Homo sapiens: one gene and its partners. The protein of the gene in region 2 interacts with the protein of the main gene of each other region in a pairwise test. Each region holds a gene or a part of one and is shown on either strand. Other genes may lie near its edges.

Region 1 (3,500 bases), on a different chromosome or scaffold from region 2:
TCTCAAACATTTCCAGATGCTGGTAGACTTGAGCTAGGTAATATAGGTTATGAGTATAAACCTTTTCAAATCTGTAAAGAAAAAATAAACCAATATTTGTGTAATGGTTTACTTGTTTTTTTTTTTTCCTGAGACAGAGTCTCGCTCTGTTGCCCAGGCTGGAGTACAGTGGCACGATCTTGGCTCACTGCCTCCGCCTCCTGGGTTCAAGCAATTCTCCTGCCTCAGCCTCCCGAGTAGCTGGGATTACAGGCGCCTGCCACCATGCCTGGCTAATTTTTGTATTTTTGGTAGAGACGGGGTTTCACCATAATAGTCAGGCCAGTCTTGAACTCCTGACCTTGTGATCCACCCGCCTCAGCCTCCCAAAGTGCTGGGATTACAGGTGTAAGCCACCGTGTCCGGACCATGGTTTACGTTTTATAAGTAAATTTCATATATATTTATTTTGATTATCCCACCAACCCTTTGAGTTGGATTTGTTTATTGTATCTATTTGACAGATAAGGAAACTGAGTCTCAGGTTTGAACAAGGTCAAATAACAAGTAAGTGGTAAATGGAGGTTTTACTCCTGTCAGAATCCACATTCTATAACCTTTATAAGTGACTTTTTGAACAATCACTAATCTATGATATGTGGAAATATTTGCAAGGGCTGATTTCTATACCTACTCACCTTTTTGATCTCTCTTGTTCAGTAAGTTTCTCTTCTTCAGGAAGAAAACGCTCAGTAGGATCAAGAGGAGGACTCCCAACCTACAATTAAGAAAAACAAAAGCTCTTTAAAGTTTTAAACTGTAAACACCAAGTGCCCTCTTCTGGAGGACCTGGAGAAATCAACTTCTACAAGCCAAATACATTTCATTTTTTCCTAGTTCATTTTTATGTTACTCAAGAAGTAATTTTCTGTTTTTTAAATTTTTATTTATTTATTGAGACAGGGTCTCTGTCACCCAGGCTGGAGTGGAGTGGCACAATCTCGGCTTACTGTAACCTCCGTCTCCCGATCCTCCCACCTCAAGCAATCCTCCTACCTCAGCCTCCTGAGTAGCTGGAACCACAGGTGTGCACCACCAGTCCTGGCTAATTTTTATATTTTTTGTAGAGACAGGGTTTCGCTATGTTGCCCAGACTGGTCTTAAAACTCCTGGGCTCAAGCAATCCACCTGCCTTGGCCTCCCAAAGTGCTAGGATTATAGGCGTGAGCCACTGCACCCGCCTCAACAAGTAATTTTCTTAACCATAAAATCTGAGTCAAACAAATAAAAGATACCCTTTTATTTGTTTTAACCAAATGTCAAAAGTTCACATTTGACAAAATTTTACTGTTGTTGCAGTTAAACTGCAAATATGCAAAAAATCCACCAATCTGCTTTTAGACATATATAATTCTTGAAGTATTTTTTCTTTTTTTAATTCTTATTTATTTATTTAGAGATGGGGGTCTTGCTCTGTTGCCCAGGCTGGTCTTGAACTCCTAGCCTCCAGTGATCCTCCTGCCTCAGCCTCCCAAAGTGCTGAAACTACAGGCATGAGCTAAGGTGCCCAGCCTCTTTAAGTTTTTTTTTTTTTTTTTTTTTTTGGAGATGGAGTCTCGCTCTTTTGCCAGGCTGGAGTGCAGTGGTGCGATCTCGGCTCACTGCAACCTCCGCCTCCCGGGTTCAAGCGATTCACCTGCCTTAACCTCCTGGGTAGCTAGGATTACAGACACGTGCCACCACCCCCAGCTAATTTTTGTATTTTTAGTAGAGACGGGGTTTCTCCATGTTGGCCAGGATGGTCTCAATCTCTTGATCTCATGATCCGCCTGCCTCGGCCCCCGCAAAGTGCTGGGATTACAGGTGTAAGCCACCGTGCCCGACCCCTCTTTAAGTATTTCAAATGGCAATTTTGTCTGGTAAAAGGGCTCTTTTAAAAACATGCATAAGCAAAACAAATAGGAAAAATGTATATATTTCTACAGTAGTAGTATTCTAAACTGACCACTAATAAAAATCAAATGAGAGATTTTAATATTTATTCTAATATTTTTTTCTCAAGGAAATAACAAAAGTGTATTACCCCCTTTCAATACAGGGACATTAAAACCAGATTCCATTATTTATTGCCTTGGGCAAGTCACTTGATCTCTTGTGCTTCTGTTTAGTCATCTATAAAATAAGGGTAATAACAGTATCTATCTCATGAGGATTAAGTAATATTTATAAATCACTTACAACCCCCTCTTACGTCTTCCAAAACAGAACTACCTAACCTCTGCCTCATTCTACTTCTATGAGGATAGTCCCATCTAGAAACACACTCTTGCTTTTAACTGAATTCATTAAACTCAAAAAGGAACAACGTCTTTCATAAAAATATGATTTTACATTCTGGATGTAAACACTAAAAGCATCACAACGTGGGCTCCCAGGATTCACATAAAGTAAAAACAACTAAGACAGGAAGCAAGGCCCAAGGCAAACACAATAGATAAGTAATTCTTCAGAGAACTCTTCAACAATTCCGAGGGCTGCTTACCATGCTTACCCCTGTCTAGATGAGGGGAATTAATCAATATATTATTTTATGTACATACTTCACTGTTATGGCTTTCACACATCATACGTAATATTAATACAGTCAAATCAGTCTCTTAACTGAAACAGAGGTACAACTAAACACAAGGAATTTCACTATATGTGTTATGTTTCCATACAAATACTATTTTTAATGAAATACTATTGATGCTTAGTAACTTTTTTTTTTTTTTTTTTTGTAAAGACGGGTTCTTGCTTTGTTGCTCATGTTGGTCTTGAACTCCTGGCATCAAGCAATCTTCCCACCTCGGCCTCCCAAAGTGCTGGGATTATAAGTGTAAGTCACCGTGTTCAGCTTTTACATTTTATTTTACTTATTTTTGAGACAGGGTCTTATTTGGTTACCTAGGCTGGCGTGCAGTGGCAGGATCCTCGCTCACTGCTGCTTTGACCTCCTGGACTGCCCTCCCGGACTCAAGCCATCCTCCCACCTCAGCCCCCGAAGTAGCTGGGACCACAAGCACACGCCACCACACCCAGCTAATTTTTTTTTAGTTTTTGTAGAGACAGCGTATCACTATGTGGCCCAGGCTGATCTTTGAACCTCTAAGTCAGGCAATCCACCCACCTCAGCCTCCCAAAGTGCTGGGATTAAAGGCGTGAGCCACTGTGCCTGGCCTCAGACCTTACATTTTAAATTAACAATTTCACATATAAGACTGTGAGCCTAAAAGCAAGAAAGGGTAGACTAATATCTCTATTTGGTTTTGTGGCACTCTGCTCTTGTTAGTACTTCAGGAAGAAAGTTAAAATGCCAAGGTACGAGGCTGGGCATGGTGGCTTATGCCTGTAATCCCAGCACTTTGGGAGGCTGAGGTGGGCGGATCACTTGAGGTCAGGAGTTTGAGACCAGCCTGGCAACATGGTGAAACCCGGTCTCTATAAAAATACAAAAATTAGCTGGGAATGGTGGCGGGCAC
Region 2 (5,096 bases):
TTATTCTACTTTCTATAGTTTCTCAACTGATAGCAGTTAATCACTCTAAATTAACTGGTTGGCAAAAAAAAAACCCTTTAGCATTTTCCAACATTAAAAGAACTCTTTTTTTTTTTTTTTTTTTTTGGACGGAGTCTCGCTCTGTCACCCAGGCACGCACCACCATGCCCAGCTGATCTTTGTATTTTTAGTAGAGACGGGTTTTCACCATGTTGGCCAGGATGGTTTTGTACTCCTGACCTCAAGTGATCTGCCCACCTCGGCTTCCCAGAGTGTTGGGCTTACAGATGTGAGCCACCACACCTGGCCAAAAGATTTCCTTTTAAGAAAAATGTGGGATTTTTTCTACGAAGGCTCTTTAACCACACAAGCACAGAATACTAGTTTATGCAACTACATTATACGACAACTCCCTAATTTTAATGCAGAAACATCCATCTTATTTTTCTTTTTGAGGCAGGGTTTCGCTCTTTCACCCAAGCTGGAGCCCAGTGGTGCAGTCACAGTTCCCTGCAGCCTGGACCTTCTGGTTTCAATTGATCCTCCCACCTCAGTCTCCCAAGTAGCTAGGACTACAGGAGCACACCATGACGGCTGGCTAAGATTTCTATTTTTTTTTTGCAGAGATAGGTTTTTGCCATGTTGCCCAGGCTGGTCTTAAAACTCCCGGTCATGTGATCTGCCCACCTCAGCCTCTCAAAGTGCTGGAATTACACGTGAGCCACCAAGCCTAGCCGAAACATCCTTCTAATAGGATCTTAACATTGGTTGAAGTTAGTTGCCCCTCTGCTTCAAAAGAAATTCTGGCTTTGGGGAAATAACTGTAGGTATATATAAAGCAAGGTTAGCAATCTAGTAAATTAATCTAGCAAACCCTCTTCTTCAAATTTAAGTTCAGATTTAAATCAGATTTCAGATCAAAAAGCTTTGGAATTAACTTTTTTTTTTTTTTTTGAGATAGGGTCTCACTATATTGCCCATGCTGCTCTCGAACTCATGGGTTCAAGTCATCCTCCAGCTGGGATATCAGGCATGGAGCCACTGTGTCCAGCCAATTAGTCTGGTTTTTTTGTTTGTTTGTTTTTTGTTTGTTTGTTTGTTTTGAGATGGAGTCTCACTCTGTTGCCCAGGCTGAAGTGCAGTGGCACGATCTTGGCTCACTGCAACCCCTGCCTCCCGGGTTCAAGCAATTCTCCTGCCTCAGCCCCACCTAGTAGCTGGGATTACAGGCGGCAGGTGCCACCATGTCCGGCTAATTTTTGTATTTTAGTAGAGATGGGGTTTCGCCATGTTGGCCAGGCTGGTCTCAAACTACTGACCTCAGGTGATACACCCACCTCGGCCTCCCAAAGTGCTGGGATTACAGGCATAAGCCACCATGCCCAGCCAGTATTTATGTTTGAGACGGGGTCTCACTCTGTCGCCCAGGCTGGAGGGCAGTGGCATAATCACAGCTCACTGCAGCCTCTACTTCCTGGGCTCAAGTGATCCTCTCGCCTCAGTCCCCCAAACAGCTGGGGCTACAGGCATATGCCACCATGCCCAGCTAATTTTTTTGAATTTTAGTAGAGACAAAGTCTCTGTTGTCCAGGCTGATCTTGGGCTCCTGAGCTCAAGCAATCCTCCTGCCTTGGCCTCCCAAAGTGCTAAAATTACAGGTGTGAGCCATCACACCAGGCCTCCAATTACTCTTTTTGAAGAGGATACTATATAATCACAACTGATGGGCATTTTTTCTCCCCTGTTTTTCTTCATAAAATCCATGTGAATATCTATGTAATGTTGTTCATCAAAAGCCAATGCATAGCCTCATCAAAAAGTCAGAGCTAAACTACAACTATTTATTCATTATAAACTTAGTTACTCAATTCATGCAGCATGCAAACTACAAGCAAACACAGGCAGGATTATTCTCACCTTTACCTGCTCTATATGTCTTGGCTTGATTCACTGGCATGGGCGTCATAGGTATTGGGTATAAAGGCTTGAGAGAATTAAAAAAAAAATTAACATTAGGCACCTATGATAATAACAAGGTATTCTGTCACTCTTAGTTTTATATTGCTAGAGAGCTAGGCATGAGAAGGTTTCCTGATTCTCCATTAGTCATTAAAAAATTAGATCATACCCACAGCTAAAAGGAACAAACCCCAAACTACAGTAAATCTAAACCATCTTTTTCACAGAAAACATTCTCAGATTTAGGTCCTCATACTTAACAACACACTGAATCTCTGCATGCCTGTCTGTTTCAAATGCATATGCATAACCATCACACCCTCAAGTCACTGAAAACCTAAAGAGTGCTTGGTGTCAGATACAAACAATTGGGGAGGCTAAGTGAACATCAAATTCTATGACTTACTTGCACGCCTGGGCTCACTGGGACTGGATACATCATATTTGGTGCAAAACAAACAGGCTGAGTATAAACTGGAGTTGGCTGTTGATGACCCACCATAGATGGGCTAGGTTGTGCTTGAGGCCGAGGTGAAGTTGGGGTAGTAGAAGGCTTTGGCTACAAAAACAACAATAAATTCAATTATCTCAAGGTAACAGATGAACTATTATTGCAATTTAAAGACGGATTTTCCCAGTCTTTCTAATTTTACTTGCTTTAACTATGTCCCTTTTATTGAAAACAAAAACACAGCACATAAATTTTCACATTTCAATAAAAGAAAAAATGTTTCAGTAGGAACTTAAAACTTTGTCAATTAAAAAATATTAAAAACAGTGGCAGCTATTTTTAAGAAACTGATGGAAGTGTTTTTAAAAATTAAAAATAAATATATCTTCTTATGATCTCAGTCGAATAATAACAATAGTACAGTCATCTCTTAGTATCTGTGGGGGATTGGTTACAGTACCCTGTGAAGATACCAAAGTCTTGGAATGCTCAAGTCCCTTACATAAAATCATGTAGTATTCGCATACAACCTATGCATATCCTCCTATATACTTTACATCATCTCTAGATTATTTATAATACCTAAAACAAGGTAAATGCTTTACTGTATTGTTTTGGAATAATGACAAGGAAACGTCTGCATGTGTTCAGTATAGATTATCCTAACTATGTTTTTGATCCATGGTTGGTTGAATCCAGTGATGCAAAACCCTCAGGTGCAGAGGACGTATCTATAAACCTGACAGCCTAGCTAGCCAACCATCGTCAAATTCTGGGTCAGAGAAATTCAAAGATTTGCCCAAGATCACATCTAATTGATGACAAAACAAAGACCTTTTTTTAATGTTTAAAAAGTATTCATTAATGGCCATGTAAAAAAAAGAAAGAAGGTTGGTTCAGCACACTAAAACAAAATTCAGATGGCAGGTATGGAAGAAGGACTATTACTAATAATTTTTCTTTTTTTGGGACTAGATAACCTCAAAGAAAGTAATAAACCTACCTGAGAGAAGGAACGTGGGTTGAACTCCTTTGCATTGGGATTCAATGTTGATTTCCTAACTTGCCTAAAAAAAATATAAAGGCCAGTGAAATCTACATGGACTTTACGTTGCTCTAAAATCTTCCATACCTGACAATTTAAAAAAAATTGCTAAATATAGATTTAAACTGTTCTCACTAGAAGATCACTAATCGTTTTTATTGAAACATATACACTTATATTGCCCATTCCTTAATCCCTTAAAGAATACAGCCATAAAAGAACAATTTTTTAAAAATCTGAGTAATATACAACCGTTCCTCTCAAAGGCAATCAAAAAATACTTTTTTTTTTTCCTTCACAGAGTCCCACTCTGTTGCTCAGGTTGGAGTGCAGCAGTGCAATCTTGGCTCACTGCAACCTCTGCCTCCCGAGTTTAAGCCATTCTCTTGCCTTAGCCTCCTGATTAGCTGGGATTACAGGAGACTGCCACCACGCCCAGCTAATTTTTTTTAATATTTATTTTTAGTAAAGATGGGGTTTCACCATTTTGGCCACGCTGACCTTAAGTGATCTGCCTGACTCAGCCTCCCAAAGTGCTGGGATTACAGGTATGAGCTACCACGCCTGGCCAATCAACAAACACTTGAGCTGAAAAGACAGTAGCTACTTATGAAATATCCTTAAAAGCAATTCTTAACATAACAGTATCCTTTTATTTATTTATTTATTTATTTTTGAGACAGAGTCTCGCTCTGTCACCCAGGCTGGAGTGCAGTGGCATGATCTCGGCTCACTGCAGCCTCCACCTTCTGGGTTCAAGCAATTCTCCTGCCTCAGCCTCCCGAGTAGCTGGGATACAGGCACCTACCACCATGCCTGGCTAATTTTTGTATTTTTAGTACAGACAGGGTTTCACATGTTGGCCAGGCTGGTCTTCAACTCCTAACCTCAAGTAATCTACCTGCTTGGACCTCCCAGAGTGCTGGGATTATAGGTATGAGCTACCAGTCAACATACCAATATTCTAGCATGCAGTAATTCTTATGTGAGAAGATATTTTACATGACATACCTGGAAAAAGTCATGGCTGTAAAAAAAAATTGCCTCAAATCAAGAATAAGCAGTCCCCAATTTATCAATAAGCTGCATTCCAAAACTTCAGCTTTAACTGGATTGTTTGGTACCCAAACACCTAAGTCAATGGTAGTTAAGTTCTGAGGTTAGCCCCTAAAAGTCCATTTAATTAATATACTGAATGTGCAGAATTAAGTCTATCTTAACAAATCTAAACATTAACTAAAACACAGTTTCTGATGAAAAATATTTTGAATTCCAAGTAGAAGCACCGCATGCTTCTCTCCTTGACAGTGGCAGTTTTTCAACCTAGCAGCACAGTGAGGGTGACTAATGAGTGGAATCCAGTAAAGATAGGTCCCCTGAATTGATAATTTTTCAACTCCTGTTCATTTACAGAAAAACTTTTCTTAATTTATGCCTTGTTTTTCTAGCCCTGGGGTACAAAAAAGGGGAAGAACAGAAGAGTAGCACAGGGTGCAATAACCTCATTTACTTAAGATGTCATTTGTTTGGACTAGCTGTTTGTAAACTAAGGGCAATGTATAAAGTAGTCTAAAAGTCCAGATGGATTCTTCACAGTTGGAAGGACCTAAATGCCTTTAAAAAAAAAAAAGTTAATTGAGT
Region 3 (3,500 bases), on a different chromosome or scaffold from region 2:
TTATTTTGAAAGTAATCAAAGATCCTTCTGTACCTTTTAGTCTTCATCTCTAAATCTACAAAGAGGAACACATGCCTCATATGACTATATGTGTGTTATAAATAGAAAATGATATTCTAATGTTCTTTTAACTTTTCAGGACACTGTATGCTCTTTGATTCAGGACAATTAGTGTATTTTTCCAGAAATAGCTATTCACATGTAAAGTGTCACTAAAGTAGATTATAGAGTTTTATGGCAGGAACAGTGGTAGAGGGAAGGGAGGAGACAATATTTATTAAGAGTATCTTATGTGCTAGGTTTGGTGTTGGAAAGTAATCTAAGTAGTTAGTAATGGGAGTTGGCTGGAATGATCATTTGAGGGATGATTCAAAGGTGGTTTTTGGTTGTAATTATGGTGCTATTTATATATATTTTTTTCTTTTAAAGGAGCAGTGAGGAGAATGAATACCTTCCAAGACCAGAGTGGCAGCTCCAGTAATAGAGAACCCCTTTTGAGGTGTAGTGATGCACGGAGGGACTTGGAGCTTGCTATTGGTGGAGTTCTCCGGGCTGAACAGCAAATTAAAGATAACTTGCGAGAGGTGTGACATGTGCTTTTCTCTTCTGTTGTCTGGACTCTTGACACAGGGCTGATTTGAGCATGGCCAAGGACTTGGTCTCTCCGTGCCAGCAAAAAATTTCACCCCATGCCTTGCGTGGTCTACTTGGTCCCCGTCAGTTGCCTGATATACTGGTGCCTTTCATCCCAAGGGGAAATAAGGCAGATGCTAGAAGAGTCTGGAAAACCCTGTGCCATTCTAGAAAATTCTATTCAGCTTACTTAGATTACTAACTACTTAGATTTTTGATTACTCCTCTGTGTGATTCCTCAGGCACTGTGACCAGTAAAAATATGAAATGAGTGAGCAGTATCCTCTCAGCTGCATCCTCTTGATTGCATGAAGGATGCACTTGAGCATCCTCCCCATCATCTTTTAGCTGGTTAATGGCATTGTTCTGTAAATGACTATCTGTTAGGGCAAGCCAGAGTGAAATCTGTTGTTGGTTCCAGTAGTATTTTGTTGTTGTGTGTGTTAGACCAAGTATTACATGACTTTGAAACACAACTTTATTAAACAGAAAAAAATGTGTTTTAAAATACAGTTTCTTATGTATATTGTCACGGATAATTTATGGCCTGTTTTGACTTTTTCCCTTGGGATTTTTATATTTAGCCCTGTTTGAATCACTGTTTATGCTTCCAGAAATATTAGTTTATAATTTTACTTAAATTGTCTACCCTAATGGTCTTTTAGCTGTTGACATGTGGTGGCACATCTCTTTACTAAATTGGCCTCCTGTAAATGGACCGCTCATTCTGTGGGGTGAGAAAAGAGATAAGGGGCTAGCTATTAAGTTAATACTCTGTCTTTATTCTGCTGATAAACTTGTAAAACCGTAGGTTTTTAAATTATGTGGAAAACTGAGGGGGTCAGTATTTCCTGGTACATTCTTGTATTTTCTCTTGATTAGGACACCCAAATTAAACCTAATCCTCTTAGAAGGCTGGGTATTGAAGAAGGATTTTAGAGTTTAGGTATGCCTTTATGGCTAGGATTCTTAAATTGGGGTCCATAGGGCTTTAGTGGGTCCTTGGGTGGGCTTTGGAACACTAAACCCTGAAATTATAGGTAAAATCTTGAAAATATACATTTTTTCTGGGGAGATACTTCATAGATGTCATTGGATAATTAAAAGGATTTGTGGTCCCCCCAACCCCACCCCCCCAAAAAAAGTTTTAGAAACTCACTATTCTTTGGGAAACATCATTCTTTGGGATTAACACTAGGAAGCTAACATGTATGTGTTTCCTAGGTCAAAGCTCAGATTCACAGTTGCATAAGCCGTCACCTGGAATGTCTTAGAAGCCGTGAGGTATGGCTGTATGAACAGGTGGACCTTATTTATCAGCTTAAAGAGGAGACACTTCAACAGCAGGCTCAGCAGCTCTACTCGGTAAGGTGACTGCATGGCTAGAATTGGTTTGAGCATGGCTTCTGGTTGCCAGAGAGTATCTTCCTTGTAATGCAGTGTTAATATAGATCAGATAGAAGTTTAATCTCAAGTGCTGTTTGGTAACTTGAGTATATCTGGTGCTTTTGGTGTCATTGTGGCTAGTTGGTTTCATTTTTCTTTTAGTTATTGGGCCAGTTCAATTGTCTTACTCATCAACTGGAGTGTACCCAAAACAAAGATCTAGCCAATCAAGTCTCTGTGTGCCTGGAGAGGTAATGACCCTTTTTGCGTATTTTAACTTTTGACTCTTGAACTTTGGTATACTAAAAGAAAGTCGATTTTGTAACTCATTGCTTGTGTTATATTTAACTTCTGTGTTGCTAGGATAAGATCATTCTGCTTCATGTATTTAATATTATACTTGCTGATACATGAATAAGCCATCTATCTTTGGTTGAGTTTCTTAGAGAAGTGTAATCATTTAAAATTACTCACAATTTGGCTTTTGTTTTAGATGAAGTTGATGAAACAGATATTCCTTAAAAATAGCCAATTTTGTTTTTTTTTCCCCAGACTGGGCAGTTTGACCCTTAAGCCTGAAGATTCAACTGTCCTGCTCTTTGAAGCTGACACAATTACTCTGCGCCAGACCATCACCACATTTGGGTCTCTCAAAACCATTGTGAGTAATCTCATATGCTTCACTGGGCACTTCTCATATCTGTGGCCTCACAGCTGGTCTTAAAAAAAATTGCTATGAATAGTGACTTTCTTGAGAATTTGATTAGCTTCAAAAATTTCATGTTCTCAGCTGGGCGTGGTGGCTCACGCCTGTAATCCTAGCACTTTGGGAGGCCGAGGAGGGCGGATCACTTGAGGTCAGAAGTTCAAGACCAGCCTGGCCAACATGGTGAAAACCCATCTCTATTAAAAATACAAAAAAATTAGCTGGGCGCCTATAATCCCAGCTACTTGGAAGGCTGAGGCAGGAGGATCGCTTCAAGCTGGGAGGCGGAGGTTGCAGTGACCTGAGATCGTGCCACTGCATTCCAACCTGGGCGACAAACAGTGAGACTCCGCCTAAAAAAAAAAAAATTCATATTCTGATTAAGTTGCCTAGGTTGGTAGTTCTTGGAATGTAGTACAGACTCAGTGATACTCTTTGGAATGCCTCATGTATCTCTCTAAATACTTTTGAAATATTTTTTGTAAAATTTATGGCTTGAATAGTTTTTAATAAAGAACGAAACGTTTGGGTCTTGTTAAAAGTGGTAATACAACCAATTCTGGTAAAGATTTTTTATATAATAGTTATGTGGTAGAGTATTCTCAAATTTGATAACTACTTTGTAAGTCATGGAATTTAGTGTGAACAGTATTTCTAATGAAATGGTAATGCTTTAACATTTTTGAAATTTGGAATTATAATTTCACTTTTTTGGCAGCATAGCATAAATAACATGATTAAATTATCTCTATTTTGTAGCAAATTCCTGAGCACT
Region 4 (3,500 bases), on a different chromosome or scaffold from region 2:
CAAAGATGCTAAGGAAATTCAATGAAGAAAGTTCAATGAACAGTGCTAGTAAAACTGGTCATTCATATGCAAATAATGAACTTCATATTATATATACAAAAAATTAACTCAAAATAAATAATTTAGGTCCTAAATGAAAAGGCTAATAGTATAAAACTTCTAAAAAATACACAGGAGTAAATCTTTGTGGCCTTGGGTTAGGCAAAGACTTTTGAGAACCATAGAAGAAAAAATTGGCTGGGCACGGTGGTTCACGTCTGTAATTTCAGCACTTTGGGAGACCAAGGCACATGGGTCACCTGAGCTCAGGAGTTCGAGACTCGCCTGGGCAACATAGTGAGACTCCGTCTTCACACACACACACACACACACACACACACACACACACACACACACAAAAGCTGGGCATAGTCGCACGTGCCTGTAGTCCCAGCTACCTGAGAGGCTGCAGTGAGCCGTCATGGTGCGACAGAGTGAGAACCTGTCTCAAAAAGAAAAAAAGAAGAAATTGACAAATTGGATCTCATCAAAATTTAAAATGTCTGCTCTTCCAAAAGCTGTTCAAAAATGAAAAGCCACAGATTGTGAGAAGATATTTTCATAACAGACGTGGTAAAGTTGGTAGTCATATATAAACAATACTCAAAACTCAATAATAAAACAAAGATCCCAATTTAAAATGTGCAAAACACCTGAATACATATGTCACTAAAGTAAAAATGAAGATGGCAAAAAAACACATGAAAAGATGCTCAACAGCATTAGTCATTAGGGAAATGCAAATTAAATTCACAATGAAGTATCACTACACATCTATTAGAGCAGCTTAATTTTTTAAAAAACTGACAATACGAAGTGCTGATGAGAAAGCAGAGCATTTAGAACTCTCATACATTTCTGGTGGGCATGCAAAATAGTACCTTGAAAAATAGTTTGACAATTTCTTTTTTTTTTTTTTTTTGAGACAGAGTCCAGCTCTGTGGCCCAGGCTGGAGTGCAGTAGCCCGATCTCGGCTCACTGCAACCTCTGCCACCCAGGTTCAAGCAATTCTCCTGTCTCAGCCTCCCGAGTTGCTGGGACTACAGGCACACACCACCTCGCCCAGCTAATTTTTTTGTATTTTTGGTAGATATGGGGTTTCACCATATTGGTCAGGCTGGCCTTGAACTCCTGACCTCAGGTGATCCACCCGCCCTGGCCTTCCAAAATGCTGGGATTACAGACATAAGCCACTGCCCCGGCCAGTTTGACAATTTCTTACAAAGTAAAGTATACACTTATATAACCCAGCAGTCCTCTCCTACATTATTGCCCAAGAGAAATGATGACATATGTCCACACAGAAACGTGTGTGTGTATATAACAGCATTATTTATAATTGCCCCCCAAACTGGAAACAATCAAAATGTCTATCAAAAGGTAAGTAGATAAACCAAACTAGTAGCGCCATACAGTGGAATACTATTCAGTAATAGAAAGGAACAATCTGTTGATACATAAAACATGCATGACTCTTATATTATGCTAAAGGAAAAAGCTGGACACAAAAGGCTACATACATGATTCTATTTATGTGAACATTCTGGAAAAGGCGAAACTACAGACACAGAAATTAGATCAGTGGTTGCCAAGGGCTGGGGGTAAGGGGAGGTGATTGGCTATAAAGAGGGATTTTTACTGCATGTACAGCATATCTTTAACCACCACACCCTCCCCCACCCGCCCCCCCCAAAAAAAAGTTCTTTTAAGCTATGCTTCTCTGTGGTCAGCCCTCTCTGGTTCATACACACACTGCCCTGGCTCCTGGCAACTACCAATCTGCTTTCTGTCACTATGGATTATTTTTGCCTAGTGCTTTGTGTTCCATCTATGTTACTGCATTTAACTCAGTTCATTCCTTTTTATTGATGAGTAGTATTCCACTGTATGGGTATACTACAATTTGTTTATCAATTCAAATGTTGATACACATTTGGGTTGCATCCAATTTTGAGATATTATAAATAAAGTTGCCTTGATCATTCATGTACAAGTATTTAGGTAGGCACATGTTTTTATTTCTCTTATGTAAATTCTGAGAAATGGCTTTTCTAAAAATCTAGTATCTATAATAATGCTGGGAGGCTATTATCCTCAACTTATAGATGTGAAAACCAAGGTTCAGATAAGTTAAATACTTAAGATATCGCGGGATGTAGATAAGCTAGGATTTCAATCCAGGTCTGTTTGATGCCAAAGGCCACACTTTTCCCATTATATCACCCTGTCTACTGGTACTGGGAAAAACACCCAGCAAACCCTGAAGAATTAAGAACAGGAGACAAGACAGGAAAGAAAGGGTAAGCAGAGTAAAAAAGAAAAAAACAGTGGTGTGAAATCCACAGCTGACTCCACTTAGTCACAGGGCTGGTGTGGATTCCAAGACAATGGAACAGCTGGAGATACTCAATAGAAATTCATGGCAGAGACAGAGAACTGCAGAGTCTGCACACCTCCACTACCTCTGAAGTCCACACTCTGAATGAATGCCAGGGAGCAGGAAAGAGGACAGCTTTGGGACCTATACTTCACGGTTGCCAGATGTCAATGCTGAAGTATGAATTTTGGGTCCTGAATAGTAAACTGATGACACGGAAAATAGTTTAACAATGGTTCATGACTCATGAGTCAAAGATCACTGAACTACTATACAGTTATTTCCACAAGTAGTAAAAGCAACAGTGGAGACTGGCCAAGTTTTAATTTGCAAGAGGACATACTAAAGCATCACTTGCTTACTCCTCAGTGCCAATCCACCCTGACTATCCATTTCTGATCTCCACCTTCCCCATCTATGTGCTCTTCTTCCCTTCAAAACCCAATCCCTCCCATCAGTTCATCTAGAGCTCTTCTGAGTGAAACTGGGCTTTGCATCTTTGTATATCCGTATGCCTAAGTGGGCCTTGGCTATCAGCTACATACGCATTACATATAGATATAATGTCAGGTGGTTAGCACACATCCAGGGAAAATATCCATCTGGGTGTGACCAGTGTAAACGACTCAAATTAGACTGTTCAATATATCTGACTCCTCCCTGGCCAGACTACTTTATATTCCCCTGCCAGAGTTTCAGTAAGAAGGCCTTACCCTTTGCCTTAAGAATAGAGTTTCCATGGTATTCTCCTTCCCTTCATTTTGGAAAGAGCATCTGCTCCACTGCCACCTCCCCTCTGTGGTCTACTTTTCTCAGCTACATTAGGAGTGGACAGCAACCATTAATTTATGGGGAAAAAATGTCGGATAAATGCATTTTACTAATGGGTGTCCTGTTACTAAAACCTAACAGAACACTGTGATTCAGGTTTGAAAGGACAGGTCCAGCCCTGTCTTAGAGTCTAATCAGAGGCTTGTTCTACAGGTTGCCCTCTGCGAAAGCCTTCCACTCCTTCCACCCTTGGGAGAACCATTTTAGACCACTGCCCCTGAAATGTCCCTTCTATCTTCCTTATTTCTGCTC

The links. Proteins that work in one complex are often made in the same cells at the same time.
Region 1: the proteins of ATXN2 (region 2) and KIFBP interact in a two-hybrid assay, tested with the Homo sapiens proteins (one large-scale study listed by BioGRID and IntAct).
Region 3: the proteins of ATXN2 (region 2) and NCOA4 interact in a two-hybrid assay, tested with the Homo sapiens proteins (one large-scale study listed by BioGRID and IntAct).
Region 4: the proteins of ATXN2 (region 2) and TDRD7 interact in a two-hybrid assay, tested with the Homo sapiens proteins (one large-scale study listed by BioGRID and IntAct).

What each region holds. Positions count from the first base shown.
Region 1 is NC_000010.11:69,002,303-69,005,802, reverse strand, and holds part of KIFBP (KIF-binding protein), read right to left. Parts: intron 758-3,500; coding exon 678-757; intron 72-677; coding exon 1-71. UniProt on the Homo sapiens protein: Activator of KIF1B plus-end-directed microtubule motor activity. Required for organization of axonal microtubules, and axonal outgrowth and maintenance during peripheral and central nervous system development.
Region 2 is NC_000012.12:111,483,348-111,488,443, forward strand, and holds part of ATXN2 (ataxin-2), read right to left. Parts: intron 3,478-5,096; coding exon 3,414-3,477; intron 2,519-3,413; coding exon 2,366-2,518; intron 1,985-2,365; coding exon 1,918-1,984; intron 1-1,917. UniProt on the Homo sapiens protein: Involved in EGFR trafficking, acting as negative regulator of endocytic EGFR internalization at the plasma membrane.
Region 3 is NC_000010.11:46,013,624-46,017,123, reverse strand, and holds part of NCOA4 (nuclear receptor coactivator 4), read left to right. Parts: intron 1-429; coding exon of another isoform or gene 430-443; coding exon 444-584; intron 585-1,857; coding exon 1,858-1,998; intron 1,999-2,181; coding exon 2,182-2,270; intron 2,271-2,571; coding exon 2,572-2,680; intron 2,681-3,484; coding exon 3,485-3,500. UniProt on the Homo sapiens protein: Cargo receptor for the autophagic turnover of the iron-binding ferritin complex, playing a central role in iron homeostasis. Acts as an adapter for delivery of ferritin to lysosomes and autophagic degradation of ferritin, a process named ferritinophagy.
Region 4 is NC_000009.12:97,418,596-97,422,095, reverse strand, and holds part of TDRD7 (tudor domain-containing protein 7), read right to left. Parts: intron 1-3,500. UniProt on the Homo sapiens protein: Component of specific cytoplasmic RNA granules involved in post-transcriptional regulation of specific genes: probably acts by binding to specific mRNAs and regulating their translation.